Homo sapiens: one gene and its partners. The protein of the gene in region 4 purifies or fractionates together with the protein of the main gene of each other region. This does not show direct contact. Each region holds a gene or a part of one and is shown on either strand. Other genes may lie near its edges.

What was found.
Region 1: the proteins of CDC14B (region 4) and GRHPR purify together in Homo sapiens (affinity purification with mass spectrometry; one large-scale study listed by BioGRID and IntAct). This does not show direct contact.
Region 2: the proteins of CDC14B (region 4) and ANKRD50 purify together in Homo sapiens (affinity purification with mass spectrometry; one large-scale study listed by BioGRID and IntAct). This does not show direct contact.
Region 3: the proteins of CDC14B (region 4) and MRPS33 purify together in Homo sapiens (affinity purification with mass spectrometry, with the first as the bait; one large-scale study listed by BioGRID). This does not show direct contact.
Region 5: the proteins of CDC14B (region 4) and HMGCS1 purify together in Homo sapiens (affinity purification with mass spectrometry; one large-scale study listed by BioGRID and IntAct). This does not show direct contact.
Region 6: the proteins of CDC14B (region 4) and PPP6R2 purify together in Homo sapiens (affinity purification with mass spectrometry; one large-scale study listed by BioGRID and IntAct). This does not show direct contact.
Region 7: the proteins of CDC14B (region 4) and TRIM36 purify together in Homo sapiens (affinity purification with mass spectrometry; one large-scale study listed by BioGRID and IntAct). This does not show direct contact.

What each region holds. Positions count from the first base shown.
Region 1 is NC_000009.12:37,429,002-37,432,940, reverse strand, and holds part of GRHPR (glyoxylate reductase/hydroxypyruvate reductase), read right to left. Parts: intron 3,210-3,939; coding exon 3,105-3,209; intron 2,431-3,104; coding exon 2,295-2,430; intron 934-2,294; coding exon 803-933; intron 1-802. UniProt on the Homo sapiens protein: Enzyme with hydroxy-pyruvate reductase, glyoxylate reductase and D-glycerate dehydrogenase enzymatic activities. Reduces hydroxypyruvate to D-glycerate, glyoxylate to glycolate, oxidizes D-glycerate to hydroxypyruvate.
Region 2 is NC_000004.12:124,670,837-124,674,775, forward strand, and holds part of ANKRD50 (ankyrin repeat domain-containing protein 50), read right to left. Parts: intron 1,699-3,939; coding exon 1-1,698.
Region 3 is NC_000007.14:141,011,877-141,016,580, reverse strand, and holds the start of MRPS33 (small ribosomal subunit protein mS33), read left to right. Parts: upstream 1-1,628; 5' UTR 1,629-1,670; intron 1,671-1,901; exon of another isoform or gene 1,902-2,030; intron 2,031-4,704.
Region 4 is NC_000009.12:96,518,640-96,522,578, forward strand, and holds part of CDC14B (dual specificity protein phosphatase CDC14B), read right to left. Parts: coding exon 3,867-3,939; intron 1-3,866.
Region 5 is NC_000005.10:43,299,515-43,303,453, forward strand, and holds part of HMGCS1 (hydroxymethylglutaryl-CoA synthase, cytoplasmic), read right to left. Parts: intron 1-3,939. UniProt on the Homo sapiens protein: Catalyzes the condensation of acetyl-CoA with acetoacetyl-CoA to form HMG-CoA, which is converted by HMG-CoA reductase (HMGCR) into mevalonate, a precursor for cholesterol synthesis.
Region 6 is NC_000022.11:50,437,156-50,441,094, reverse strand, and holds part of PPP6R2 (serine/threonine-protein phosphatase 6 regulatory subunit 2), read right to left. Parts: intron 3,590-3,939; coding exon 3,492-3,589; intron 3,253-3,491; coding exon 3,195-3,252; intron 2,922-3,194; coding exon 2,797-2,921; intron 2,497-2,796; coding exon 2,333-2,496; intron 1,398-2,332; coding exon of another isoform or gene 1,395-1,397; coding exon 1,238-1,394; intron 1,135-1,237; coding exon 1,046-1,134; intron 295-1,045; coding exon of another isoform or gene 274-294; coding exon 69-273; intron 1-68. UniProt on the Homo sapiens protein: Regulatory subunit of protein phosphatase 6 (PP6). May function as a scaffolding PP6 subunit. Involved in the PP6-mediated dephosphorylation of NFKBIE opposing its degradation in response to TNF-alpha.
Region 7 is NC_000005.10:115,163,184-115,167,122, forward strand, and holds part of TRIM36 (E3 ubiquitin-protein ligase TRIM36), read right to left. Parts: intron 570-3,939; coding exon 335-569; intron 1-334. UniProt on the Homo sapiens protein: E3 ubiquitin-protein ligase which mediates ubiquitination and subsequent proteasomal degradation of target proteins. Involved in chromosome segregation and cell cycle regulation. May play a role in the acrosome reaction and fertilization.

The DNA of each region.
Region 1 (3,939 bases), about 59 Mb from region 4:
GCCTGCCAGTGCAGCTGGCACAGCAGAAATGGGGTGTGCAGAGGCCTGGCCCCAGCCCCACAAAGCAGAAGAGAGAAGGGGGCTTTGTTGTGAAACAACAGCTTGAAAAACTGGCACGAGTTATATTGGCATTGTCATTACACTTTTAATTTTTCACAGCTAAACTGGTAATAGCAATTTATAGTAACAGGTTTTACACGAGTCACTGTGGTGTAACACATGGAGACATGTAGTCAGCCCACTTTGTTGTTGTTGTTGTTTTGGAGATGGAGTCTCACTCTGCCACCCAGGCTGGAGTGCAGTGGCACAATCTCGGCCTACTGCAACCTGTGCCTCCTGGGTTCAAGCGATTCTTCTGCCTCAGCCTCCCAAACAGCTGGGACTATAGGCATGCACCACCATACCTGGCTAATTTTTGTATTTTTAGTAGAGATGGGGTTTCACCATATCGGCCAGGTTGGTCTCGAACCCCTGACCTCGTGATCCACCCACCTCAGCCTCCCAAAGTGCTGGGATTACAGGCATGAGCCACCACGCCTGGCCCACTCTTTTTTTTTAAACAAATCCACTCACACCTACATTCTGTTCCTTTAGGGACAGAGACCCAGCAGAGCATGCGCAAGAGGACTGCTCCTGTCATACACCCATGTCACTGACAACATAAACATTTACGATCCCTGGTGTGTCCCTTTGGGTTCAACACCTGCTCACACTAGCTCCACACCCGGCCCCTTGGGACCCCCTCAAAAACACTGGTCCTGCAGGGCAGCAGGGAGTTTGCATCAGAAAGTGCAGTTCTTACCACAGTTCTTCAGGGTCAGGAGAGGGTGGTTTGTAGGCAGTGGTTCTGGGCTCGTCACATCCAGTCCAGCAGCTGCAATCTTACCACTGGCCAAGGCCTGGTACAGGTCGTCCTGGTTTACGACGTCGCCCCTGGGAATGACAGTGGTGACATGGGTACCCCGAAGATCCCTCCGCCCAGGCCACCTTTGAGGCAGAACAACCTACAGAATGAATTTTTCCACTCACTTGGCACTGACTTTTAAAGCAGTAAGTCTTAGGTATACTTACAGTATGTCTGTAAGTCTTATATACTCAGAGAACTCCAGCCCTGCCTCCTTCTAGCTGTGTGACCTTGGGCAAGTGTCTCAAATTCTCTGTGCCTCGAATTATCTGTGTCTCAAATTATCTACTCTGTGAGATAAGGAGAATACCACCTAACTCCCAGGCATGTTGGGAGGATTAAAGCTTTCTTACATGCTCTACTGCATGAACAGGGCCCAGAAGGGCATCTGTGTTAGGCCCCATCCAAGTGTTTCTGATCTGGTTGACCCCCAGACCCCCACTGAGAAGCACCACAGTGTGCTATCAGGTACCTGTCTAAACCAGGGCAGAGGAACGAGCACACCCCTAACCACAGCCATCAAAGGGAGCGGCGACTGAAGGCAAGAAGTCATCTTCTAGAGACTGTATATTGTGCACTAAGTAATACTTGTGCACTAATGAGTAATACACGGTCCTGGGCTGTCCTGGGTACATGCAGGCACCCAGTACACGGCAGCTGTGACTGCTGCCAGCCAGCAGTGCGAGCCCTGTGGTCCTGCATGTTTCACTCTTCCATTCCCAGGTCACCTGTTTTGTAGCTAAATGTTGGTAATTACAGGTACCTTTGGGGTGGACGAGTCCTCAGGATGACCTCACCCAATCCCCCTTCCCCTAAACTGATGTAAACAGGCTCAAGGGGCACCAGCTAGGAAGGGCTTGGAGTGGCAGAGAAGGAAGGTCTGACCTCCATACATGCCCAGTGGCCTGAAGGCACCCCTAGGGACAGTGTGAGGAGCTACGACCACGTGAGTTTTAGGGTCTGTCCGCCCAGGAGCATAAGGTTCAAAGTATCACTGAACCACAGCCAGACAAAGCCAGGCTCAGCAGTGTGGGAGGCGGCCTCCAGAGGGCCCTTCAGATCCTCAAGTCCAGCCCTTTGTGGTGGAGGATAATGGGCCTGCAGAGGCTCCCTGGGAACACTCCCTGAAGCCACGCTGCTGTGTGCCAGGCCCCGCCGGGTGGGGGCCACTGCTGAGAAGCAGACAGGCCAGGCCCACTCTGACGGCTCTTCTTCCCTGTACGGAGGTCTCGTGTATTCCCACGAATTTCTGAGTTGGTTGTTTGGTTTATGGAAACCAGCAAGCTCAGCCTGGGGTCTCACCAACAACCCACGGGGAAGAAAATCTCCAGATGGCAGCAGTGGGGATGGCTCCTCTCCAGGCTTGCTGGGTAAGGTGGCCCTAGGATACCTGCTGATGTTGATGAACACAGCTGTTTCCTTCATCTTCTGGAAGAAGTCCTTGTTGCAGAGTCCCTCGGTTGCAGGTGTTAAGGAGCAGGCCACGACGATGAAATCAGATTGGGCAGCCAGCTCAGGGGTAGACACTGAGGGAGGGCAGGACTCCATCAGGCACTGAGTCCCAGGCTAGGGACAACCAGATGGCGGGAGACCAGCCCCTTGCTCCCGACTCCCTAACAGAAACTCCCAAGATGCTTCCTGAAGGCCGAGTCTCTACCTGGACAACTCTCATGAGTGCACAAAGTCAAATCACACACAGTGGGATCTGGACCACTCTGGCTTTAACTACCTTCAGGGCCCAAAGTGCCCAGGGGCGTGGGGAATGCTTGAGATCCAGCCTGCCATCTGCTCACCAGGCTGTGGACCCGCCAGGTGCTGGATCCGCCTGGACTAAGGGGCGCACACAAAGGCTAGGGTAGTGCTTGCCAGTTTATGAAGGAAAAGACAGTGAAAGTGCCCAGCCCTTCCTCACACCCACCACCATCCCCGCTGCTCCGCCCACAATGGGGAATGGTAACAAAGGACTCTGAAAGACGGGAGCCCTGGACTGCTCTGCTGGCTCGGAGAGGACCTGGGTAAGTCCCTGTGCTCCCTGAGTGGGCCAGTGTCCAGGGGCAGGTAGATTAAACATCTACCAGACAGCAGCCCCTGGACATGCCTGGAGCTCCTGCCCTCTGCCTGAAAATGCCACCATTGAGAGAAAATACAGCCTCTCAACTGGGCACAGATAGGCTCCTGTGGAAATCAAGGCTTCACTTACCAAACTCTGCCTGGAATTCTGCTGCTTCCTCAGGCCTGGGCTGGCGCCCTGTGTACAGAAATCTCTGGACACCGAATGGTTTCAGACGCCGAGCAATGGCCTGGCCTAGAGCAAGGAGAGTCCATGTCTCGTTCCCAGTCCCGCAAAGGGTAGGGACACCACCCAGCATTTCTGGAACAGCGGCCCTCAGGGCAGACCCTTTTCATCAGCACAGCCCGAGTTGCCTGCTCCTGTCTCCTCCAAAGCGGGTGGGGGGCTGGCTGCCCCACTGTAACTAGCCCCCAGCCAGCCCACACTGCCCCAGGGATCTGGAGACAGCACCTCAGCTCCCCTGAGGCTGTGACTGGCTGATGCTGTCCTCACATGGTCCAAGCCATCTGGAAAGCCACTCAGGTTTTTCCTAACCTCTGAGAACTGGAGAGGTTTTCACAAGGGAGACACCTGGTCAAGCAGTCCCCTCCTTTGTCCTGGACCCTCTGCTTCTGTGAATGCAGTCTCAGACCCCATTTGACTTTTTGGTGGCACTGCCAAACTGCCAGCTCACCCCAAACTTACAATTTTCATGTAAGCTGCTGCTGAGACAGATTTGTACAGTTGGATTTTCAGGCTCAGAACGTGCCCCAAAGCTGTTGGGTTCCTCCAAGCAACTCTCTAGTGAGAGGCAGGGCTGTTCGTTGGCTAGACAGGTTCTCCACACTCTCCACCCTCACCCGCACCCCTGCACCAGGCAGGATGACAGAGAACCACCAATAGATAGCTGCTTGGCTAGGCTCACGCCCTTCTGCCAGGCTTCTCCAAATAAGGGCCACTGGAAGAAAAGTGTCTCTGCCTCATC
Region 2 (3,939 bases), on a different chromosome or scaffold from region 4:
CTTCACTATCAATACTATCCACAGCTGCACCCCAAAACAAAAGTGTATTTACAACTGATGCATGACCCATAGACGCTGCTGCTAAGAGGGGTGTACGGCCATTGTTATCTGTGTGATCTACATCTGCTCCCCCTTCTAGAAGCAAGTCAACCACATCAACATGTCCTTCATAGGCAGCTACCAGCAGTGGAGTCATGCCATCTTTATCACAATGATCTACTTCAGCACCTCGATCAATTAAAAGGCTAACAACTGATGCGTGCCCTTTACTTGCAGGCACACAAAGTGCAGCTACAGAGAGTGCAGTCCTGCCATCAACATCCTCATGATTTACTTCTGCTCCATGGTCCAGTAGGTGTTCCACAATCTCTCTATGTCCCATGTATGCTGCTGCTATCAAAGCAGTTCTACCTTCATTATCAGCTTTGTTCACTTCAGCGCCATGTTGTAGCAAATTCAGTACAATATCCTCGTGTCCTCCCCATGCTGCTGCTCTCAAAGCTGTTCGGCTATCAGCATCTGCACAATCCACTTTTACGCCAGCATAAAGTAGTGCAGAAACTACCTCAGTATGGCCACCCCAAGCAGCAGATCTTAATGCTGTCCAACCATCTTGATCAGTATGATTAATATTTGCTCCACACCCAATCAAACAATTAACCACCTTGGTATGTCCCTGTCTAGCCGCTAGAGTGAGTGGTGTATGTCCATGAGCATCTTCTATCTCTAAATCTGCTCCCCTAGAGACAAGTAAATTGACTACATCAAGACTGCCACTATATGCAGCATTAGCCAATAATGTTCTCCCATTTGAATCACACTGATTTACTGAAGCTCCATTATCTAATAATGTCCGAATGGAATCCTCTCTTTCTAAGGCTTGTCGAACTATGCATGATGTGCGATCGTCTTCACTGTTGACATGAGCCCCAGCTTTAACCAACAGCTGTAGCACTTCTTGTTCCTTGGGTATCAAAGTAGAAAGGGAATCTCTGACAGGTGTACCATTCCATATCATCCACAGAGCTAACTCCGCTGTCTCTAATTGTAAGTTTGAGTTAATTAAGTGCAATGCAAATTCTTGTGCTTCCAATGGTGTTAAATTCTTGGCTTGACAGGTATAACTCATAGCCAACATTCTGTGTCCTTCTGCTGCATTACATAAATACTTCTGAGTACAGTGTTTCACATCCAGAAGCCACTCGGCAAAACTATAATGAAACAGTATTTTTGTATTTCCTAGTCCATCAACAAGAAGTTTGGAGAGGATATCTAACTTGCGTTGAAAATCTTCCAAAGTTAACGACATGTTTTTGGTCCATACTGCGTGATATAATTCCGTTATGGTCAAAGGTCGGCAGGCTGCAAGAATCACATTCAAAATAGGCTGAACCTTTGCAAATTGTTTTCTTACAAAAAGTCTTTGGCACAGCCAGAGATATAAACCATTTAGAGTTCCTGGGATGTCACGAATTTCTCTTAACATAATAAAATTTTCTACAACTCCATCTAAAACTCGTTCTAGGTAAAGAAAGCATCCACTGCTTTTAATGTGCAGTTGATTTAACATCTCTGCAGTTTCTTTTGTGAGGTGTTGTCGCAAAGCTTCTTCTTGATCTAAACGATGAAGAATGTACTGCTGAACATCCTTGACGATATATGCCTTCCGAAGGTCATCTAAACTTATTTTTCGAAAACCTAAAGAAGAGATAAAAAAGTAGATGTAATCAGTTGAAAAGGATTATAGAAGTACCATATCTTCAAAGAGAATGTCAACATATAATAAATAAATCAATTAATAAATTAATACTAATAAGCAGATCAATTAATACCTATTAGTATGTAAATCAGTTTTCTTTTCTTTCTGCAAAAACACACTGATGGCAGAAAAATTTCATTTTCCTACCTACAAATTGAACTACTTATTCCTTTAGTAGCTTGGTGCCTCTCTCAACTCCATTGTAATAGATACTAATTAAGAAGCAGACAGTCTTACATAACCATAAAAGTACCCAGTTAACATCATCTGAACTCCCAAGTGATTGGGAAAAAAAGTTGCAGGAGACATAACAAGTAAGGTTTCTTTTTACAAAATCTCTTCCATATAAATAATTTATATATTTTCACCTATACACTTGAATATACACTAGCCTTAATTATGTGACTGAATATTTACATCCAATTAGAATATCCAGTCATTGTCTTTAAACTACATTACTGTACATTTTATCAAACTAAAATAACTAAATCTCAGACCATCAATAAATAGCTTGAACCAATTAAGATCCAACTTTTTGGCTAAATTATGGTCAAAAAACTTCAGCACTGTAAAATAAATAATAAGATTTAAACCAACCTAAAAATATACTAGCTATAGCTATTTTAAACTCATTTTAAGTTCTTTAAAGGAAGCCATAATTTCACTGTCTAAAGGCAGATGACATCATGATATACAGATATGAACTTATTAGACAATTGTGTATTCATCTTACAGAACAAAAAACTGCTAAGTGAATGAACTTACCAAGTCTCTAACATGACCAGATTTGCATTTTGAAGGAATATTCTAACATCTAAAGAAGAACTGGAGCAAGTCAAGACTAAAGGAAAAACGATTTTTAAAGAGGCTGTGATGCACTCTAGATGAAAATCACTATGAGCCTGAACAGCCATGGTGGTGGCAGCAGTTGCAGCAGCAGCAGCAGCAGCAAAAATAACGTGATGGACTTGGGAATTTTTAATAAGAGCTAGATTATACAGTGTTTGGTGAATGTGGAGAAGTAAAGAGAGAAGGACGAGTCAAAGCTGACACTAACTTGTGGCTCTGCCAACAGGACTGAAAAAGAGACCAGTGAAGGACAAATAATAGGTTTGGAGAAAAAGCTGATGAACTCAATTTTGTAATACTAAGCTTTAAGTATGTAGACAAAATGGACAGTTATTGAAAAATTAAAAACAACCTACCAAGAATAAAATATGAATAACAGTTGTACTAATATAGCCCTTTGTATATAGATTTATATAGCCCTAAATCTATATAAAAATAGAATCTAATTTTACATATATATGTATACACACACAATTGATTATTAAATCCTCAACAGAAATAATTTCAAAAGATAAATTTCAATTGTGAAAAAGTCACTGCTCACCTAAGGAGGGTTTAAAACATACCTAGAAATTTACAGCAATCTATATTTACCAATGATGTGAGATGATTTGCCTCCAAATCTTTTTCTGTGTGTCCATTTGCTTTTGACTTTATCAATTCACTTTAAAATTTAAGTTAGATAAGGGAAATACCTAGTACATTGCTAATAAAATAAGTTACTTAAGAAATAATATTATTTTACATTATATAGTGTTTTAAAGTTTCTGAAGCAATGTAATACTTTACATTACTTTAATGTAAGACTTTATATTACACTACTTGATTTACATGAAAGATAATACATTATGAATAAATATCTAAAATTTAAACCTAATTAACTAAGATGTCATGATTGGAACTTGAGATTATTAAGACAGAAACTCCACAGTAACAGGTAGGGTTCTACAGAAAGGAATAAAGGAGAGCTACATTTATTGAGAGTCAACTAAGGTAGTAGTTTAAGTATTCATTATTTATAAAACTTCCTTGTCTGTTAAGCCTGGGAGATAAATATTTCTATTTTAAAAAATGAGGAACCTAAAGCTCAGAAAGGCTAAATAAATTGCTCACAGTAACACAGCTAGAAAGTGATAAATTTTGATTGTTTTGTTTGACTTTGAAGTTTGCTCTTTTCATTAAGATAGGAACAAGAATAGAAAGCTGTGAAAGAAAACTCAAGTGTTTGACAGGGGAATGAAGAGGAGGGAGTAGGGACATAGGATTAATTCTATAAGAAAGTATAGAATTTCATAAAGAAAACTTACAGAGAATTTATAATTTAGAGAATA
Region 3 (4,704 bases), on a different chromosome or scaffold from region 4:
TGATGTGGCCACAAGCCAATGAATGCCAGCAGCCACCAGAAGCTGGAAGAGTCAAAGAACTGATTCTCCCCTAGAGTCTCTGGAGGGAACACAGCCCTGTCAACATCTTGATTTTGGCCCAGTGATGCTGATTTTGAATTTATGGCCTCTAGAACTGTAAGATAATAAATTTCAGTTGCTCTACAACACCAAGTTTGTGGTATTTTATTATAGCAGCCTCAGGAAACTAATATGAACCCCCATGAAATTGACTTAATAAAAGTGATAGTGCAAAGTACCTAAACAGTCACCTGAAACTCTATATACCTAGCTATGTTTCAAGAAAGATTTATGGTAGCTTATAGTAATTCACAAAACATTGATAACACCAATAATTCATACGTGAAAAGGAAAAAACAGGAAGGATATACAAAACGAAGCCAACAAGGTTTATGCAAAAAATATATATATGTGTGTGTATATATATATATACACACACATATATATAGCTCTTGCCTCGAGCCAATTAAAATTTGGCTTTAAACCAGCAGCTTACACGTAAAGGAAGTCTTCTTGTTTATATGATTCAGTGGCCATTACATAAAAACAAGCCAACTCCACAGAAACAAGTACAAAAGACAAGACGAAATTTCTCCCAGGAGTTTCGCTCCTTAGGACTTCTTTTCTGGACTGTAGCCATGTATAGGATACTCATTACCCCTTTGTAAACTTAAATGTAGTCACTAGACCCAACTTTATAAGGCTGTTTACTATATCATATAAGGCTGATAACATGTCAAAACTTAACTTGATAAAAGCAAATCCTATAGCATAGATTGATTAGACGTCAAATTCTAACTTAAAAGTAAATTCTGTAGGAGGAAAGAGGGTGTAAATACAATACCCACTAGGTAGGCAACTCACTACCGATATTAATTCCAGGGTACATTTTGAAATATTTATAAAATGCCTTGAACGATACTCAGAAAACGAGTACAGTTTCCTCACCCAAACTATCAAACATTGAGTAAGTGCTGCATACAATGCCTATGGGATGTGGCTTGCTTGAAAACAGATTTAGTATGGGGTGAAATACTCACAATGCTTTCTACTATCTGCCCAGCGAGGTCTAAGATAACTACTGAGGAGACAAACGTTCCATCCCCTACTCCCTGAAGAAGCTCCTGGGTCAATGGGGGAAAGCGCTCCTAACCCAGTAGCAAGGAAGGCTTGCAGCTAGGGATCCTAATTAACTATTAGAAGATGAGCAGATAGATGGAAGGGGAGGGGGATGGCGCCGCAAGTCGGTCAGAAAGACCACACGGCACACGCATCGCCATTGCTTCAGAGCTTTTGGAGGCAGGTCTGTAGCCATTCCCACCAAAACATACTACCGAACCGTGCATGCCCTTCCAGGAGAGCCAGACCTTTCTAACTCTCCCCAGCCCACCACCTCCCCGGGTCCTCCGCACAGGCGGCGGCGCTAGCCTTACTGCGCAGGCGCCAGGTACACCTCGGAGGCCTCAGGAGGGGGAGCCAGTAACTCCGGGTCGTTCACTAGGGCTCCGCTCTAGCTGCCAAGCTTCCGTTTCTCTACTGCTCCCCGTAATAGTTGCCTGCGCGAGCTTGGAGCCGGGTAGAGGGCGGGCCTTCCGGGACGAGGGCGCGTGGGTGAGGAAGGTCAGGTCTAGGTAAGGCTGTCGGTGACTTTGGGGGTCTGCAGCAAGGGGCGATGGCTGCGAAGTCTACGGGGGTCTCCAACCTTGTAGAGTCGCCAGGAATAGGGCGAATCCACTTCATTAGTGACCAGCTCGGGCGGTTCACGTGCATCACACAAATAACTTGGCCTTTTTCTGCCTCAGTTGGGGGATTTCTTAAACGTAGAATACCCGCGTTTCCGCTGCCGTAATTTCCTCTCAGGCGCAATTACTCTCTTCCATATTGGTTAACAGTAGAAGGCTCAGTTTCTCTGCTCATCACACGGCCTTCGGCACTGTAGCTTTGGGTGGTGGGCTGCAGATTAATTTTGTAACCACCTTAAGAAAAATACGGTAAGGTGATATTTAAGAAAAATATTTGCGAAATGCGCTCCCGAGTCAAACATCGGTTGACTTGACAATACTACAGTTTCCATCACAGTCAGGCATGATCGAGTCAGGTGGAGGGAGTTGAAGATTGTTCTTGATGAACTGAATGCAGCTAATACATTTTCAGTGCCGTTGATGCCTCTATGACTCCGTAAAATAATCGGTACCGGGTTTTTTTGTTTTTAAGCATTCTGTTGAGATTGTTTTTATGTTTAGATTGTTTCTATGACAACGTGTGTACACTGTATGTGAATTCCTTGGATCCTGATGGTTATTAGGGTGGGCACTGTGCCGTGAATTTTGCATATTAGCTTCACATCGCAGATAGTATGACTGTCCTCGTGTAGTCGATGAGAGAACCTGGCAGAGAATAAGCACCATTACAAAAACGACGTGGCCATTAAAAGGCAGAGGCGAGATTCCAACCAGCTTTTTTATTCTGCAGCTGGTGCGTTCTGCTAACCAATGGTTTTTGGGAAACTGGAGAAAGCTCTCTCCCAGAACAATTTACACACACACATACATACACATATCGGCATACAGATGTACACTTCCACTGTTTTCAAAACGCTGAAGCACATCCCGGTTAAGAACTCTTGCACTTCATCTTTACCTTTCAAAGAGAAAAGGCAAACCTAATACAAAGCCACTTATTGAAATAATCTTTTAAATGCATCAGACCTATCAAAAAGATCAAAGAAGTTTGCCCTGTTATGCCAAAGTAAAAATATGGGAATTTTCTTCTCATGTGGGCTTAATTTGTTTTGCTCAGCACATTTGAGTAATTTGTTTTTGCTTAGCATTTTCAGCTCCAGTTAACTTTTTTCATGAGAGTACAGTTTTCTTTAGTTCACATTTAAAGAAAGGTAACACTTAAAGTGACTTGTACTCCCCGAGAATGGTTTCATGTGAATCAAAATGTAATTGACATGCACGTTGTAAGAAAAGCTCCCGTGTTATTCTTCGTGAGAGACATGTGTCTGTGCACTGTGGAAGGAAACAACAAAGCAGTGTCATTGGTAATTGTTAAAACCACTTTCAGTTTCCTCCTGTTTAGCAAGTGGGCCTTTGTTTCTAGTAAGGGATTCAGGTTTGAAAAGGCTTATTCCCTTTCTCTGTCATAAAACTTTAGGACTTGGATTTTATGATATAACCATGTTCCAGCCTATTCTAGTGTGACCTTTTTACTTACAAGTTATGTATCCCAGTAATTTGCCACATTCCAAAATGGGCATGGACATAACAGCAGCATCCTGTGATGGCTTCAGTGACTACTGTCCTACTGAGTCCCTTCCTCCTCCTGGCTATCTTGTCAAGTTATCAAGGTGCTGGTCCTCTCCCTATGTTTCTCTGGCTGTCAGTCTTTGTAAATGAGGTCATCATTCCAGGGAGGCACAAAGTTTTTACTATATGGAGTATCTATCTGTCTGTCTCTCTCTCTTTTTTTTTTTTTCTTAAACATGATTAAGAACAAGGAATAAACAAATGTGTCTATGTAGAATATATGAAAACCAAACTTACAGATCTGGGCTCGTTCTTTTTTGTAAGTTACCATTTACTACTCAGTGCCACTGTTACTCATTTTCGCACTAGTCATGCAAGCTTTGTTTTCAGAAAAGGAGACTCAGAGAAGATGAGTAACTGTTCACAATAACCCAAGGATTAAGTGACAGAGCCAGTAGTCAAACCTAGGCCTCAGGAATCCCTGTTGCCTCTTCATTGACAAATAAAGGGACTTGGAATTCAGAACAGATTTTCCTGAAAACACTGTAACAAACTGATAGTTCCCATACCAGCTTACAGATAACTAACTGTGGAAATACTGTGCAATTACAGCAGAAATATATTCTGATGCCACAATGGTAATTAAGCAAACAAAGCAAAGTTGATGAAGCAACTATTGTTTTTTAATCTAATGTTTGGAAAAAGGTAACTTTAAAGGGCAAAGGAAGAGAAAAAGCATGCAAAGAAACTAGGTGACTCTGGACATTTGCAAGGCTTTTTAGAGGTTTATGGCACTGATTTGTTTATACATTAAACTGCTAAATGAATTTTTTTCACCTTGAGACTATAACCCTAGTCCTAACAACCCCACCCCCAACCAGAGTTGGCAAAGAAGTGAATCAGGAAACTGAGAATGCTGAATGGAAAAGGAAGAACAGGCTTGTAGGTGATCTGCAGATGGTGGGGAGGGAGGGGTGGACGTTGGATCTGACAGTTCTACCGTTGCCAGCCTTCAGGTGGCACTATTGACCCAAAATTGCTTGGTTGGTGTTCTGAATGGTTTTGAGGTTGACAGTGGTTTGAGATCAGCCTCTGCTTTTTTTTTTTTTTTTTTTTTGACACACAATCTTGCTCTGTCACTCAGGCTATAGAGTACAGTAGTGCAGTCATAACTTAGTGTAACCTCAAACTCCTGTGCTCAAGTGATGTCCCCCTCCTCAGCCTCCACGAGTAGCTGGAACTACAGGTGTGCACTACCATAGCAGACTAATTTTCTTATTTTCTTTTGTTTTTTGTTTTTTTTTCTGTAAAAACAAGATTTCTCCATGTTGCCTGGGCTGGTCTTGAAGTCCTGACCTCAAGCGATCCTCCCACCTCAGCCTCTCAAAGTACTGGGATTATAGGCATGAGCTAC
Region 4 (3,939 bases):
CACAAAAAAAACAAGCTACTAATATACATAAAGATCACAGGGGTGAATATTTAAATGGAATGAATAAATGGTCTGGGAGCCCTAGAGAACTCTCTACCGATCCCAGCCTTCACCTTCAGTTCCTTAAAGGCAGAATGGCCCGAATGTCCAAGTGTCAGCATTATAGATGGTTACTTTTTCCTCTAGTAAACCTCATGGCTTAAGAATTATTTTCCGGCCGGGTGCAGTGGCTCACACCTGTAATCCCAGCACTTTGGGAGGCCAAGGTGGGCAGATCACGAGGTCAGGAGATCGAGACCATCCTGGCTAACACAGTGAAACCCTGTCTCTACTAAAAATACAAAAATTTAGCCGGGCGTGGTGGTGGGCGCCTGTATTCCCAGCTACTTGGGAGGCTGAGGCAGGAGAATGGCATGATCCCAGGAGGCGGAGCTTGCAGTGAGCCGAGATCGCACCACTTTACTCCAGCCTGGGCGACAGGGCGATACTCTGTCTCAAAAATAAAAATAAAAAATAAAAATAAAAAAAGAATTATTTTCCATTGCTAACAGATATACTCATCTCCAAACCTACCAAAACCATCAGTATGCAGAACGACAGGCCTCATGGCTCAAGTTATGCAATCTACCAAATCCATTTTAGCACAGACAATATACTTGTCATCACGTCCTGAAGATCAGCTCAATGTCATGGTGCCACATGGTTTCCTGTCATCATTGTAGTCAGGATCAGACAGGCTGAGCAAATGGCCATTTTATAATCACTAAAAACTTAAACTCTCCCCCAAAACTGACCATTTATAAAAGAGAAACCGGCCAGGCGCCGGTGGTTCATGCCTGTAATCCTAGCACTTTGGGAGGCTGAGGTGGGTGTACCACTTGAGGTCAGGATTTCGAGACCAGCCTGGCCAACATGGTGAAACCTTGTCTCTACTAAAAATACAAAAAATTAGCTGGGTGTGGTGGTGCATAATCCCAGATACTCCGGAGGCTCAGGCAGCAGAATCACTTGAACCTGGGAGGCAGAGGTTGCAGTGAGCCGAGGGCACACCATTGCACTCCAGCCCGGCCAACAGAGCAAGACTCTGTCTTAAAAAAAAAAAAAAAAAAAAAAAGAGAAACCAATCATTGGAATAATATTTTATGTACTATAACCTTCTCCTAAGAATCACTAGTACTTGTGTATTTCTCACTAACTTTCCTTCTTGCATGTACTGTATTTTCATAAGGCTAAGTGCCAATGCTAAAGCAAAATAACTTGCTCACAGAAATCAATGAGTCAAACTTGGATGAAGAAATTGATTTTGTATTTTTCAACCCAAGCAACTGTTGAGAACAGTCCCTCAGGGACTTCTATTCCTAAAATAACAACATAGACACAAGAGGGAAAGAAAGAAAATCTTCAATTGATCTTTTCTAGGGCCAAAAAACTGCAAATAATAGCAGAGAGGGTTTGAAAAAGCAGAGACGGGGATAAGCAAAATGTTGTAAGGGAGGAGGAAGGAGATTTGCTGAGACTCATCAAAAATCCCCTCGGGTCTATACACATAACTCAGAGCTTAGAAAAACTAGCATTTCGCTTTCTTCTTTAAAAGTGTGGCCTAAAACTTTGTTATTTGTGTTATGTGGGGCTATTTATATATATTGTTTTTGGGATATTACCAAAAGGAATCCTGAGCTACCTCTTTGTTTTTTAACTTTTACCATTGTACTTGATTTTACTTATTTATTTAGACAGGGTCTCACTCTGTCACCCAGGCTGGATGCAGTGATCATGGCTCACTGCAGCCTCAGACTCCTGGGCTCAAGTAGTCCTGTTGCCTCAGCCTCCCGCATAGCCTGGTCTACAGGTGCGCACAGCCACGCCCAGCTAGATTTGAACTCACGTTAATGAGAGTAGCAGATTCAGAGGGTGACTAAAGGAAATTTCCTATTTAACAAAAACTTTTGACTAAGCAGGATTTGTATCCCCTGACTCTCAACTTGACTTTTGAACAGCAGGCAACAAAATATTAAAACATAAACTGATGATGCTGATTCTGAAAAACAAAACAAAAAATCCCAGACACAGCTAAAATCAACCCACAAAAGCATCAGTTTCCTAGGGCTTGCAATTCAATGTGTGGTCCCTGGACCAGCAGCCTCGGATAGAAATGTGAACTCTTGGGCCCCACCCCCACCCCACCAATCATAACCCATATTTCAACAAGCGCCCGGGTGCCTCCTGCACACTGAAGTCTGAGAAGCACTGCTCGAGGGTGCTGCCTGCCTCCTCCACCACATCCAGAATTAGTATCTGGATGATTACCTGGAGCCACCATAATACTTCCAAAGAAAAACCATTAAGGCCTTAGGTGAAGACTTTTAATAAGGAAATTAAAAACAAAATGGCATTTGGAGTTAAGTAAATTATACAAAGGCACTATTTTTGTTTGTTTGTTTGTTTTTTGAGATAGAGTCTCACTCTGTCACCCAGGCTGGAGTGCAATGGCACGATCTCGGCTCAATGCAATCTCTGCCTCCCGGGTTCAAGCGATCCTCCTGCCTCACCCTCCCGAGTAGCTGGGATCCTATAATGCCTACAGCTCCCACCATCATGCCCGGCTAGTTTTTGTATTTTTGTAGAGACGGGGTTTCACCATATTGGCCAGGCTGGTCTTGAACTCCTGACCTCAGGTGATCTGCCCACCTTGGCCTCCCAAAGTGCTGGGATTACAGGCATGAGCCACCACACCTGGCCAAAAGGCACCATTTTTAAAAAAGTATAGTTGACTAAAGTACCACTAAGTTGCAAAAGAAATGCTTAATAAATGCCTATAATCAAAATGGATGCCCTACATTCATTCACATAACACTGCATATTGTAAAACTCAATTCTTTGCCTTGGGTCTTTTAAGAAGAACCTCCCAGGGGAGCAACCCATAATGACACATGCCTTAGGTGTAATTCTACTTCAGAATTTTTATGACGAGACACTAGTGAGGAATTACTTTTAATTGAAAAGAAAACCTGTTCTCTGCCAATATAAATGGTATATTATATCATACTTCCTTACCATATTACAAGATGCTTACTGAATAAATGATCTATGTCCATCACACTCCCTCCCCGCAAAAAAGAAGGCTGGAAATCTGGTGTCCCACAATGAAAAAGGAAGTAACTAGAAGGAAGAAATCCAATGGCAACAAGTGGGAGCATTTACTAAAGAACAGCCTACAAAAAATACCATGGTCATGTACTTTGCTTCTGCATATTTTTCTAACAATCTTGGATGCTCCATCAGGTTGAATCCCAACTAACACACATTCACAAGAATGTACACATAGACATACATACACTCAGTACTACAACATTTCCTATTCTCAGGCTAAATCTTCCTCTATAATTAGAAAATCATTCCCCAAAGAAACAAACGAAAAACCCAAAATATAGTTTAGACCAGTTCATTGTTGCCCCAAAACAACATAATGTCATTAAGCCATCATGTCATGCTTATCAAAACAAATGATCTGCAACATGGCAAATGTAAAGAAATACACCACTTTAGTAACTATGGACAAGTCTGGCATCCTGGGCTTTACATCTGCTGTCGCGCTCCTGAGGATGCCCCATGCTGATTATTCATGGAGAAAAAGTATCCCTGATGTCGCCTTCCCACCCATAAAGGCTCATGAGGACCAAGGTAAACAAGGGACAGCTGAGAGCTTCCAAGGCCAGCACCCCTAGGTTTTAAATAACATAGGCAAGCATTTCAAAGTGGCATCATGGGCTTGCAACTATGGAGAAAAATGTACAGGAAAAACCCTCACCAAGGACCCCACACACATATGAAGAAACATCAACCACAACAAAGGAACCCAGACTCACGTGAGAGGAATAGCGTTTGTTTTGGATTGTCTTCTGCTTTTCAAGGCCCGAAGTCTATCACCTTGTGTCACTC
Region 5 (3,939 bases), on a different chromosome or scaffold from region 4:
TGGCAGATGCCTGTAGCCCCAGCTACTCAGGAGGCTGAGGCAGGAGAATGGCGTGAACCCGGGAGGAGGAGCTTGCAGTGAGCAGAGATCATGTTACTGCACTCCAGCCTGGGTGACAGAGCAAGACTCCGTCTCAAAAAAAAAAAAAGAAAAAGTAAAAATCAATCAATCAATCAATCAATCAATCATGTATTCATCATAGATAAACCAGTCCTCTTTTAAAAAAGGGACTAAAAAGTAGTGTCTAGATTTACTTACCAATAGCAACAAAAATCACTAGCTACTCAAGACCATTGTTGGGCATTTAACTTACCAGAGCTTCAGCTTCTTTAACAGGTTGTATTAGTCAGGAAAAGAAAAATTACTATAGATATTTCAAACAGAGGGGAGTTTTAATGCAGGGAAATAGCTACAAACTTGTTGGCTGGGCTGGAAGAACAAAGCGGAAAAGGTGGTTCTCTGATCCCATGAGCCTGCACTCCTGCTGAAGCTGCTGGAGCTACAGTACTAGTACCTCTGCTGCTGAGCTGGAACCCAGAGACCCAAAGTCCCACTGTTGGTGCTGCCACTGACAAGAACAAGAGAGGTACCTTCTTCCCACCTTCTAATATTTCTTGAGTACTTCCAATATTTCTTGAGTACTTCCATCAGCCCTCTAACCAGAACCCAGATGGCATAAGAACCAATGAAATGTAATTGTGAGGCTTTGAAGAGTGGCACAGCTCCTCAGTTTTAGAGAAAGAATCCTAAAACCTAAAATTCTACAACTCAATTTCCTTTTTAGGTATGACATCATTGGATGGTGCTACTTAGGTGGCAGAATTTCATTGACCCAAAGGTCTTGGGTTATGAGTTACCTGGGCCGAACTGATTCATGAACATTCTGTATGACTTGTTTGTCAACCCATCACTAATTTGATACTTAAAAATGAAAGTCAAATCCTGTATTTATGTCATTTGTCCTCTGCTGCTCTGCAATTAAAGGTCTTAAGGGGCCAGGTGCAGTGGATCATGCCTATAATCCTAGCACTCTGGGAGGCTGAGGCAGGAGGATCACTTGAGCCCAGGAGTTCAAGACCAGCCTAGGCAACATAGCAAGACTCTGTCTCAACAAAAAAAATTTTTTTAAAATGAGCTGAGCATGGTGGTGCATGCCTGCAGTCCCAGCTACTAGGGAGGCTGAGGTAGCAGGATCACTTGAGCCCAGGAGTACAAGGGTGTAGTGAGCTGTGATTGCACCACTGCACTCCAGCCTGGGTGATGGTGAGACCTTGTCTATAGAGAAAGGAAAAAAAAAAAAAAAAAAGAAAAGACTTAAGGGATACCAGTTGTATCTTCCTTCCAAACAGAAGAATCTTTTTTTTTTCTCATTCATCCAACCAATGCCAACATGTTACATACTAAACATTAGGGATGCTTAATGGGAGACTTCCTTATCCTCTCGAATATTCACTATTTTATGGGACAATAAGAGAAAAACACATAATAATAAACAGGTAACAACATTGAGAACCACATTATATAATGGAGAACTACCTAACCCAGCCTGGTGGTAGGGCAAGGAGTGTTAGGAAAAGCATCCTGGTTATAGGGGCCTGACTTGAGCCCCAGGAATGGGTAGGAGTAAGCAGTAAAGCACTGAAGAAATGGAGGGTAGTAGATTTTCAACAGAGTGGACACCATGAAGAAAGGCAAGCTACAAGGAATTACAAAAAACTTTACTTGTCTATTGGAATGAAATGTGAGCTGAGTGGATCAGGTAAATAATAGATTAGAATAACTAGGTAAGGGTTAGGTCATGAAGGTTCTGGTATGCTGATGTTGAGGGCTTCAAATTTATCATGAAGATAGTAAGAAGCCATCGGAGAGTTTAAGGAATAACATGGTGATATTAGTTGTCAGGTCAGTGTTTTTCCAACTCCGGAATCAATTTAGTGGATGGCAAGCACACATTTAAAAAAATGAAACAGAAAAGAATACAAGATATAAGATTGCATGGCACAGGGTAAATGTAAAGATTTTTCTTGAATCAACCTTTTGTTTTAATTATTCATACATATATAAAGTATACATAAGTTGCAATACAAAGTGTATTTTTACTGGGGGCCACAGTCAAAAAAGTTTGACAGCCACTGTTTTATCCTCACTAATGCTGTTTTACAGTCACTGGTGCTGTGAATGGATGAGTTAGGAAGCTGACATGGCAGTCCAGATAAGACATGGGTCATGAACTAGAGCATTTACTACATGTGGAGCGAAGAGGAACAGCCTCCAAAAACATGGAAAAAGCAAAAGAACTGGCAGAAACTGTAACTGACTAGATGTTAGGGAAAGAAGAAAATGTATACAATGACTTCCAGATTTCCATCCTCAAGTGTTTTATGACTTGACAAGCACACTGTCAGATACACTAAATGAACAGAGATCCTCTCCACTTTGTTCTACTCCACTTCTTCCACACAAACCCTGTTTACTTTATGCCCTTTTCCCTGGTAAGTGGAGTTCAGCCAAACCAGCGCTCAGAACCACCACTGAGGAAGTGAAGAGATCAAGCTCAGACAAGCTGCTTTCGTTCCTGTCATTTCACCAACATCTCCATACATTTTTCCAGTTTGGTTTTCCTATCTACTTCCTTCCTATATGGGACTTAACACAAGATTCTTAACTTTCATGTATGCAGTTTATACTAGAAAACACACAAAGAGAACTACACTGAAGTCAACATTAAGGATAAATGCTAAATACTACCCAATCTTTCCCCATCTTACAACTACTTACCTACATAACCCTCCCTCTACCCTTTACTCTCAAATTATTATATTCTTTATCCAAAAACATTTAGTGCTTTCTTCAACAACCCACCTCGTGCTTCTGCTTATTGAAATCCTTTATAGCCCTAGATCACATAGGTCACATTTTACCCATGAAACCTTTCTAAATTACCTTTTGCATTTCTTGCCTATCCTTCTACATCATCATACTTCGTCAATTAAAGTCACTTTTTTGGGTAACATTTCAGAAATTGGGATTCCTCTTACAATTGCTATCAGACAGAAGCCAATTATGATGTTGTCATTGCTTACACATGGGAAAATAACAAAACTGCCAGCATGACATTTGCATATGACAGTCAACAGCCTGAAAGAAATTCCCAGAAATGATACTGGAGCATTCATTTCACCCTCTAGGAACCAAATGGACTGGGAAGGAAGTAGAAGATGGGGAATCCCTAAGCAGCAGTCAAAGTAGGCTGGCTTTGCATAATTGCAAAGCTGAAGGCCAGCACCAAAACCTTCGCATTCTTTTTTGGGATCTTGAAAGGAATGCTACATCACCAATTCTCTTGGCGGCACAGAGGATGTTTAACGGAAAATTACAGGTATTAACAACTCTGACTCCAAAAACAATTCAGAAGGCAGACTCTAAATATGTGAAATTTAGCAATTCCTTATGTGTTTTTTCACTTGTGTTTTCCATCTTATTGAATGTGCAAGTGACATATGACAAAAATCTATGTCTAACTCTAAAAGAGCTCTTTAAAAAATTCTAAGTAATCAAAAAAGCATTGTATCTTAATTTAATTGGCAATGAAGCATCTTAAATTTATTACATCCTAGATTCTTTAGATAGTACGAAATATAGCATTCAGTGCTTCAACTGTGTTACTTCCCAAATATCTGCCTGAATTATGGATTGAAATGTCTGGGTTTCCCCACCAAATTCATATGTTGAAGCCTTAACTCTCAATGTGATGGCATTTGGAGATGGGGCCTTTGGAAAATAATCAGGTTTAGATGAGGTCATGAGAATGGGGCCCTCATGATGGGATCAGTGCTCTTATAAGAAGATAAAACGAGAGCTTGCTCATGCTGTCATACTCTCTCTATGCCATGTGAGGACACGGGCAATCCAGGAGGAGAGCCCTGATCGGGAACCAAC
Region 6 (3,939 bases), on a different chromosome or scaffold from region 4:
CTGGGGACAGAGCCTGGAAGCCACGCCCTATGCACCCGGCAGGCCCGCCCCCGCCACGCCCCACACACCTGCCGACAGCCTCCTCTGTCCTGGCCACTGTGGGCAGCGGGGGGGCCTCCCGGCCGGGACCCCTGCTCACCGCATCCATGGCACTCGCTGCCTTCTGGTCGCCATCCTCGCTGTGGGAGCCCCCAGAGGAGCTACTGTCAGAGGCCAGCAGGGGGGCCTTCCTGGTGACACACACGTTCCAGGCACATGGAGAAGCCGGGCTGACTGCAAAGTAGGAGGCCTGTGCTGTCCAGTGAGGCAGGAGGGGTCACAGGGTGCGGCCACTCCAGCCATAGGGTCCCCATACATGTGGCCCTCTCACATGCAGCCTGTTGCCTGCACACATGTGCCTGTGTGGGAGCCGCATGATGAGGCAGACAGGCTCACGCACCTGCCATGGGGTCTCCACACAAACAACCCTGTTGCCTCCCCCATGATACAGGGACACATGCCCTGGTCTCACAGGAGGACGCAGAGGCTCAGGGAGGGGCCCACTCCGCCTCGTGTGGTCCTGCCACAGCTCCTTTAAGCCCAAAGGACCCCAAAACCGGGGACACCAGTGTTGGGAGCCAGCTGTCACTCACCTGGAGCTCTCAGCCTTATCTGGGGGAGCTTCTGAGCCTGACTAGGGGGCTGGGGGCCAGGGGCTCTGATCAGGCCACAGAACAGCTTCCTGCCAACAACCCACCCACACACATCTCAATGCTGGGGTCCCAGTGCTGCTGTCCGGAATCCAGGGTGCAGACCTGAGCTGTGCCACCTACTCAGACCAGGCTCAGAGCCAGCCCAATGGCCTTGCTGCCTCCCCTCTGGGGGCCTCCCCATCTACACGTGGCTGCTCCAGTCCCATTGCTGTATCAAACCCCAATGTCACCAGAGACGTAGCAGCATGCGAGGCCCCGGCCACCTCCTCCCACTGCCCCCAAGGAGGGGGGCCAGCTGGCCTCAGGCCTTAAACTGGGCAAGGCTGGGTGCCGCCTGCACTGCTCCTACTCACAGGCTTTCTCAGGGCCTTGGCTCCGGCTGCCCTCAGCATGGCTGCATTCTGTGTCCACCGGAGAGCTGCACCTGGGCCCTGACTCGGAGCTGCATACAAGGACGAGGACAGGATCAGTCCTGGGGGACAGGTGCCTCCTGGCCCTGACAGGCACTTCCTGGCACAGCCCCCTCCTGCCAGCGCATTTGTTACCAGCAGAAAGGTTGGAAGTCAGTGAACTTGGCCCAGCCTTTCTCCTCTGGAGCTGAGGTGCCAGCTGCCCACACACTGGAACCCACGTCCCTCACCACTCCTGGGGCTGTGGGCGTTGAGTTCGCTGGCTCATCAAACACTGCCGTCCACATGGCGCCTGCTGGGGGAGAGACACAGTGGTCAGGCGTGGGCAGGCCTGGGGTGCTGCAGGCAAAGGGGAGGCAGCGCCCCTGCCCCGGGAGCCCCTCAGAGGTTGACAGGAAGATGGGGCTGCTCCAGGAGGGAGGCCCAGGCAGTGCCCGTCAGCCCCTCAAGGAGCAACAGGGGACAGCTCGAGGGTCCTGACAAGCTGCCGACACCCATGGGGCGTGTGACCTGGGGCTCAGTCAGGTGCCTGAGGGCCCCCAGGCCTCCAGCAGGACTGACACTGACAGTGTGGAGGTGATGCCACTGCCCTGTCCTACCCAGGACCGCAACCCACAGAGCCGGCAGCTCACCGAGCACCACTGGCCCCTTCCTGGCCTCGAGGATGGGGTGTCTTCCTCCTATCTGGGATGTTCCTGCTTCCCCAGGGTGTCACCCTTGCTCTGTCAGCGAAGAGCTCAGCCCCTCCTAACAGAGATCTCTGCCCCCGCCACCAAAGTCCTGAGTGCCTCAGTGCTGCCCCCAGGGCAGGGTAAGGAGAGGGGTCTCATCAGCCATGCGGCCTGTGAGGTGGACTGGCTCCTGCCATAGATGTCGGCCATGAAGGTGGCGGCCGGCCTGTGCTGCTGTGCTGGGGAGGGCGTCAGGCCTGTGCCTGACTGTGTGGGGGCTGGACGGACGATGGAGACTAGGTGGACACCACCCACCAGCCTTGGCAACGTGGCTGAGTGACCACAACTGCAAGGCAGGGGCAGGAGGCCACCTTGCGCTGGGCACAGCGCAGCACAGACCCCTACTCAGGACGGCTGGGAAATAGCTGGGGATTCAGGCTCCGGGCCACAGTGAGCCCCAAATGCCTCAGCTCCAAATGAAGCCTCCACAACACCCAGGCCGGGGTACCATGTCCTGTCCCCGATACCCACACTCCCAGCCCCTGGCGCCCAGCACCACCTTCTGAGTCACCCTCCACAGGGGGCGCTTCCTTCTTCCCGGGGGCCGGTGGGGCACCTGCCCCAGGTGCATCTCTGTGTGCTTCCAAGCTCGCCTTCCCATCCTGGCCTCCACGCTCTGGGCCATTCTTTGAGCAACTCTCTGAAGCATGGGGGGCTCCAAACCTGGGGGAGATTCAGAGTCAGATGTCTGGTGGCCCAGGACGGACGCCTAACATGGAGGGTCAGTGGCGGCCCCAGGCTCGGGGCTGAGGGTGAGCACAGATCGTCTCGAGAGAGGAGCACGAGACGCTCCAGGCCTCAGCTCTGGGCTCCTTAGGGTCACCCGCTGCATTGGGCCCCAGAGCTGGCAGGACAGGTGTGGCTGCTCTGCAAGCCAGCTAACGAACCACAGGGCGTCTGACAGGTGTTCTGGGGGCTGAACCTCCTCGGCAGAGGCTTTGTGGGGATGGGCAGGCCCCGCACCTGGGTCTGGCCATCACCCGGGCAGCACAGCGAGTGTCACTGTCCTCCCAGATGTCCTCGTCCTCATCATCATCAAAGGGCTGGATGCGGTCACTGCAGCAGGCCTCAAACAGAGCTGCGCTGGGCTGCAGAGTAAAACGCCAAGGTGAGTTTCCAGAGGGTCTGGGGGAGACAGGAGCCGCTCTCCCCATAGAGCTCCCAGAGGGGCTTAGTTCGGGATGTGGGAGCCCCGGGCTGGAGGGGAGGACGGGGAGGGGCAAGGAAAGCGACTGTTCCGAGCTCCACAGAGGGGCCTCTCCCAGCCCCACCGCACAGGCCCATGACAGACCGAGCCATGGGCATGGCCTGAGCTGCCTGGGAAAAGGGTGGCGGCACCCCACACAGCCCGGCTTGCTCACACTGTCCTCGTCAGCGTCGATGTTGAAGTTGATCTCTGCGATCCTGTCAAACGGGGCACTGCAAGAGCAAGGGGGATGGCTTCAGCGTTCCTCCAGGCCCACTGCTCATCTGGGGCCTCAGTGCTCCTCCCCCGGTGCTCATCGGGGGCCTCAGCACCCTCACACAACTGGGAACACCTGCTGTCTCCCGGGGACATCAGACGGCACTCCCGGCAAGACCTCAGGGAGCTGCCTCCACGGGAGCTCAGCAGCAGGGAGAGCCGCGCCTCGTGCAGAGTGCGCTCCAAGTAGACTCACTTGATGTTGTCGTCCTGGTCGGCAAACTCCTCATCATTGAAGCCAAACTGATCCACGAAGTTGGCTGTCATCTGCTGGATCTGGTAGTCAGAGAAGGCCTGGGAGGGAGGGAGGGAGGGAGGGACGGACAGACACCGGTCATGGAGGAGGCATCAGGCCTGGAGGCTGCTCTTTGGGAACCACAATCTCTCTAGTTGTTCGGGAGCTTCTCCTCCAGCACAAGTGGGCAGTAAACTCTGTTCAGGGCTCACGATTCTACCAAAACTCAGGCTGCGCGCTCGCTGCGGTCACATCTGAGATACGCCCCATATTCTCTGACTTTCGAGTCCATCTGCCGTGTCCTCAGTGCTCTCATCAAGGTGGAGTGACTTTGGGGTTCTCCCTTCAGACCCACCCCGCCCCATACGTGCTCGGAGACGAGCCCCCGCTCCCCTTTGCTAGTGAGATG
Region 7 (3,939 bases), on a different chromosome or scaffold from region 4:
TGACCTCAGGTGATCCACCCGACATGGCCTCCCAAAGTGCTGGGATTACAGGTGTGAGCCACTGTGCCCAGACTTACAAACACAGTTAATAAGGAGTTTAACACAAAGTTCATGTTCAATATCCAATATCTACTTCAAGTATGTATCAAAAGACGAGAGTTCATTTTGACATTTTAACAGTGGGGGAGGCCCCTTTATAACTACAGTTTTAATTTATTCACCTGGAAAAATTAACTCTCAAGATGACAAAAATAATTTTCCTTCCAGTTACCACTGAATATATATCTATAAGCTTACCCCCACTACCATCCCAGCCCACAGTTCTAACACATACCTGGTCTGTTAATTCGGTCAATTTTATCCATACTAGGGGAGGGGAGCCGAAGTCGAGGACTGCTTTGATTGGAGTTGTCTGATCCCACATCGTTGAATGAATCATCGAGAGTCAGCAGGAGTTCTTTTACACATTTATGACAGATACTATGTTGGCAAGGGAGAATCAATGGGTGGGTAAACAGCTCCTTGCATGCTGGGCAAATGAGCTCCCTTTCGATATTCTTAATGGTAACCTTGAGAGTAAAATAGTCCAAGTTAAAGGCTCTTAGTGGGTAAATATATTAACATTCTTATACCTCCTGAATAAGTACATGTGTTTATTTTTCCAAAAAGAATTAAGAAAATGATTTTCTAAATTTTAAATTTCTTTTCCCCAATAAAATTTGATACCATCAACTGCCCTCAACACCCATAACCCAGAACTGAAGGAACATGAGATAGTAAAAGGCAAAAATGAAGAGAAAAATTATGTAAAATATTAGGGGACCATGATATTTTATCAAAAATTATAAAGCCATCATTCGAATCTCCATCACCAGTGCACTGATTTAGGACTTCGGTGAAATCCTAAAAGTAGATCATGTCAATAAAAATTTTGAATACAGCACTAAGAGTAAGACTATATTCTTATTTAGTGAATTAACACTGTGACTGACAAATAACAGGAGCTATTAAACACTAGCTGAGTCAGTATGTTCATGGAAACCTAGTTGGTATCTATTTACAAGCTGAATTATCAGCAATTTTCTACATTAAATGCGACCATTCTTCATTAATGCCTGAGGTTCTCATGCTGTATATCAAAGCAATTATCTTAAAAGCACTTTATGAGTATGTATTAGTCCATTTTCACACTGCTATAAAGAAAATTACCTGAGGCTGGGTAATTTATAAAGAAAAGAGATTTAAGTGACTCACAGTTCCACATGGCTAGGGAGTCCTCAAGAAACTTACAATCATGGCAGAAGGGGAAGCAGATCTGTGTTACGTGGTGGCAGGTGAGAGAGAGCAAGAGCAGGGATACTGCCTTACAAAACCATCAGATCTTATGAGAATTCGCTATCACAAGAACAGCATGGGGAAAATCTACCCCTGTGATTCAATGGCCTCCCACCAGGTCTCTCCCTCAACACCTTGGGATTACAATTCAAGATAAGATTTGAACCTAACCATATCATTGTGGCCCTGGCCCCTCCCAAATCTCATGTCCTCACATTTCAAAACCAATCATGCTTCCAAACAGTCCCCCAAAGTCTTAACTCATTTCAGCATTAGCTCAAAAGTCCAAGTCCAAAGTCTCATCTGAGACAAAGCAAGTCCCTTCTGCCTAGGGGCCTGGAGAATCAAAAGCAAGTTAGTTACTTCCAGGATACAATGGGTGTACAGGCATTGGACAAATGCTCCCATTCCAAATGGGAAAAATTGGCCAAAACAAAGGGGCTACAGGTCCCATGAAAGTCTGAAACCCAAAAGGACAGTTATTAAGTCATAAAGCTCACAAGTGAGATCTCCTTTGACTCAATGTCTCTCATTCAGGGTACGCTGATCCAAAGGGTGGACTGCCATGGCCTTGGGCAGTTCCACCCCTGTGGCTTTGCAGGGTACAGCCCACACACCACCTGCTTTCATGGCTGGCATTGAGTATCTGCAGGTTTCCCAGGCGCATGATGAAAGCTGTTGGTGGATCTACCATTCTGGGGTCTGGAGGACCATGGTCCTCTTCTCAGAGCTCCCCTAGGGAGTGCCCCAGTGGGGACTCTGTGTGGCGGCTTATATCTCACATTTCCCCTTTGCACTGCCCTAGCAGAGGTTCTCCATGAGAGCTTCGCCCCTGCAGCAGACTTCTGCCTGGATATCCAGGTGTTTCTGTACATCCTCTGAAATCTAGGCAGAGGTTTCCAAACCTCAACTCTTGACTTTTGTGCACTGGTAGGCCCAACACCATGTGTAAGCCACCAAGGCTTGCACCCTCTGAGGCAATGGTCTGAACTGTACCTTGGCCCCTTTTAGCCACAACTGGTACTGGAACAGCTGGGACACAGGGCACCAAGTCCCAGTGATGGCAGCTGCAGCCCATCTGGAGCAGCTGCTGCAAAGATGCTGGCTGCAGTTGGGAAGGCACAGCCGGACCTGCTTGCTCTGCAGAGCCAGCGGGACCCAGGAACAGGCAGGAGCCCTTCTCCCTTCCGAGTTGGTGCGGAGGGAGCCCCATGCTCCTGGGTGCAATTGCAGCCACCCAGCTGTGGACTAGGGCATTCCTATGCTCTCGGGGGCCCAGGATGCCTCTCTTCCCCCACATGCTCAGAAGTGCCTGCTCCTACTGCTTGGCCTCTCCCCATTCCCAGTGCCCACTCTGACTTTGGAGAAAAGCTGTGGCCAAGCCCGGGCACTGACATGACCTGGCCAGGTGTGTGTGTGCTTGAGGAGATGCTGACACACCAGCCCCCTGCCACCTCAGCTCCCTCTGGACTTTGGGCGCTGATGAACGTGGGAGGGAGGCCAAGGGCAGGGCTGAGGGTGACTCAACGTGGTACTGCAGGCGTCCCTCAGCTAAAACAGTCTGGGCACCATGAACAGCAGTGGGAGGGAGACAGGCTCCTGGGAGGAAAGGGACAGGTCCCTGCTGAAACCCCACCTTCAAGCCAGGGATAGCCTGAAGCCTAGGGTCCAGGCTGCCAGTTCCACTGACTGGAGTGAAAACTTACAGTGAATTTTCCAGGCCCACCCATGGCCACCCATGGGCCAATCAGCACACACTTCCTCCCCTCTGAAGCCCATAAAAACCGCAAACTCAGCCAGACTCTGGCAGATGATAGGACGACCTGCCTGCAGGTAAGAGCTACCCACTTGGGTCTCCTCTCCACTGAGGACTGCACACTCGACAAAATGACCTGCCTGCAGAGAGGAGGTACCCACTCCGGGTCTCTTCTCTGCTGAGAGCTGCAGTTGTCGGGAGGAACTGCCTGCAGAAAGCAGCTACCCATGACAGGTCTCCTGAGAGCTACTCTTTTGCTCAATAAAGCACCTTGTTCACCCTCCAGTTGTCCATGTAGCTCATTCTTCCTGGACACAGTACAGGAACTCTGGACCTGCCAAATGGCAGGACCAAACAAGCTGTAACACAAACTGTGTCAAATACACCCTGCTGCTCGCCATGTTGTGGGTGACGATGAGGAGACAAGAGAGGAGAGAAGAGCTGCAGCCCTTCAGGGAGCCTGGACTTAGGAGCTCCCCAAGCCAGGGCTGTGACATCCTCTTTGTGGCTCTGCAGTTGCCGGCATCTCCAAGTTTCTGGGTGCCACCATGTTCCACAGTGCTTGTAGTGGGAGCCACTTGTGGTACACCTGTTCCAGCCACAGCAAGGAGCCGGCGCCCATACTGGCACCTGGACCTGCCTGCCCCGCCACAGCCACCATGCCTGGCTGTGCACACTGTACCCCGCGCTCGCTCACTCATGCACCCCTTGCTGCTCTGCACCTGGCTTGCCGTTGGCAGCCGTGGGATCTGGGCCAGTAGTGAAAACCAAGCACAGCCTGCTGGGTCAAGTGGGCAGAACAAGCCCAGTGGGCCTGAGCAAAACTTGGGCAAAGGCAACACTTGCCA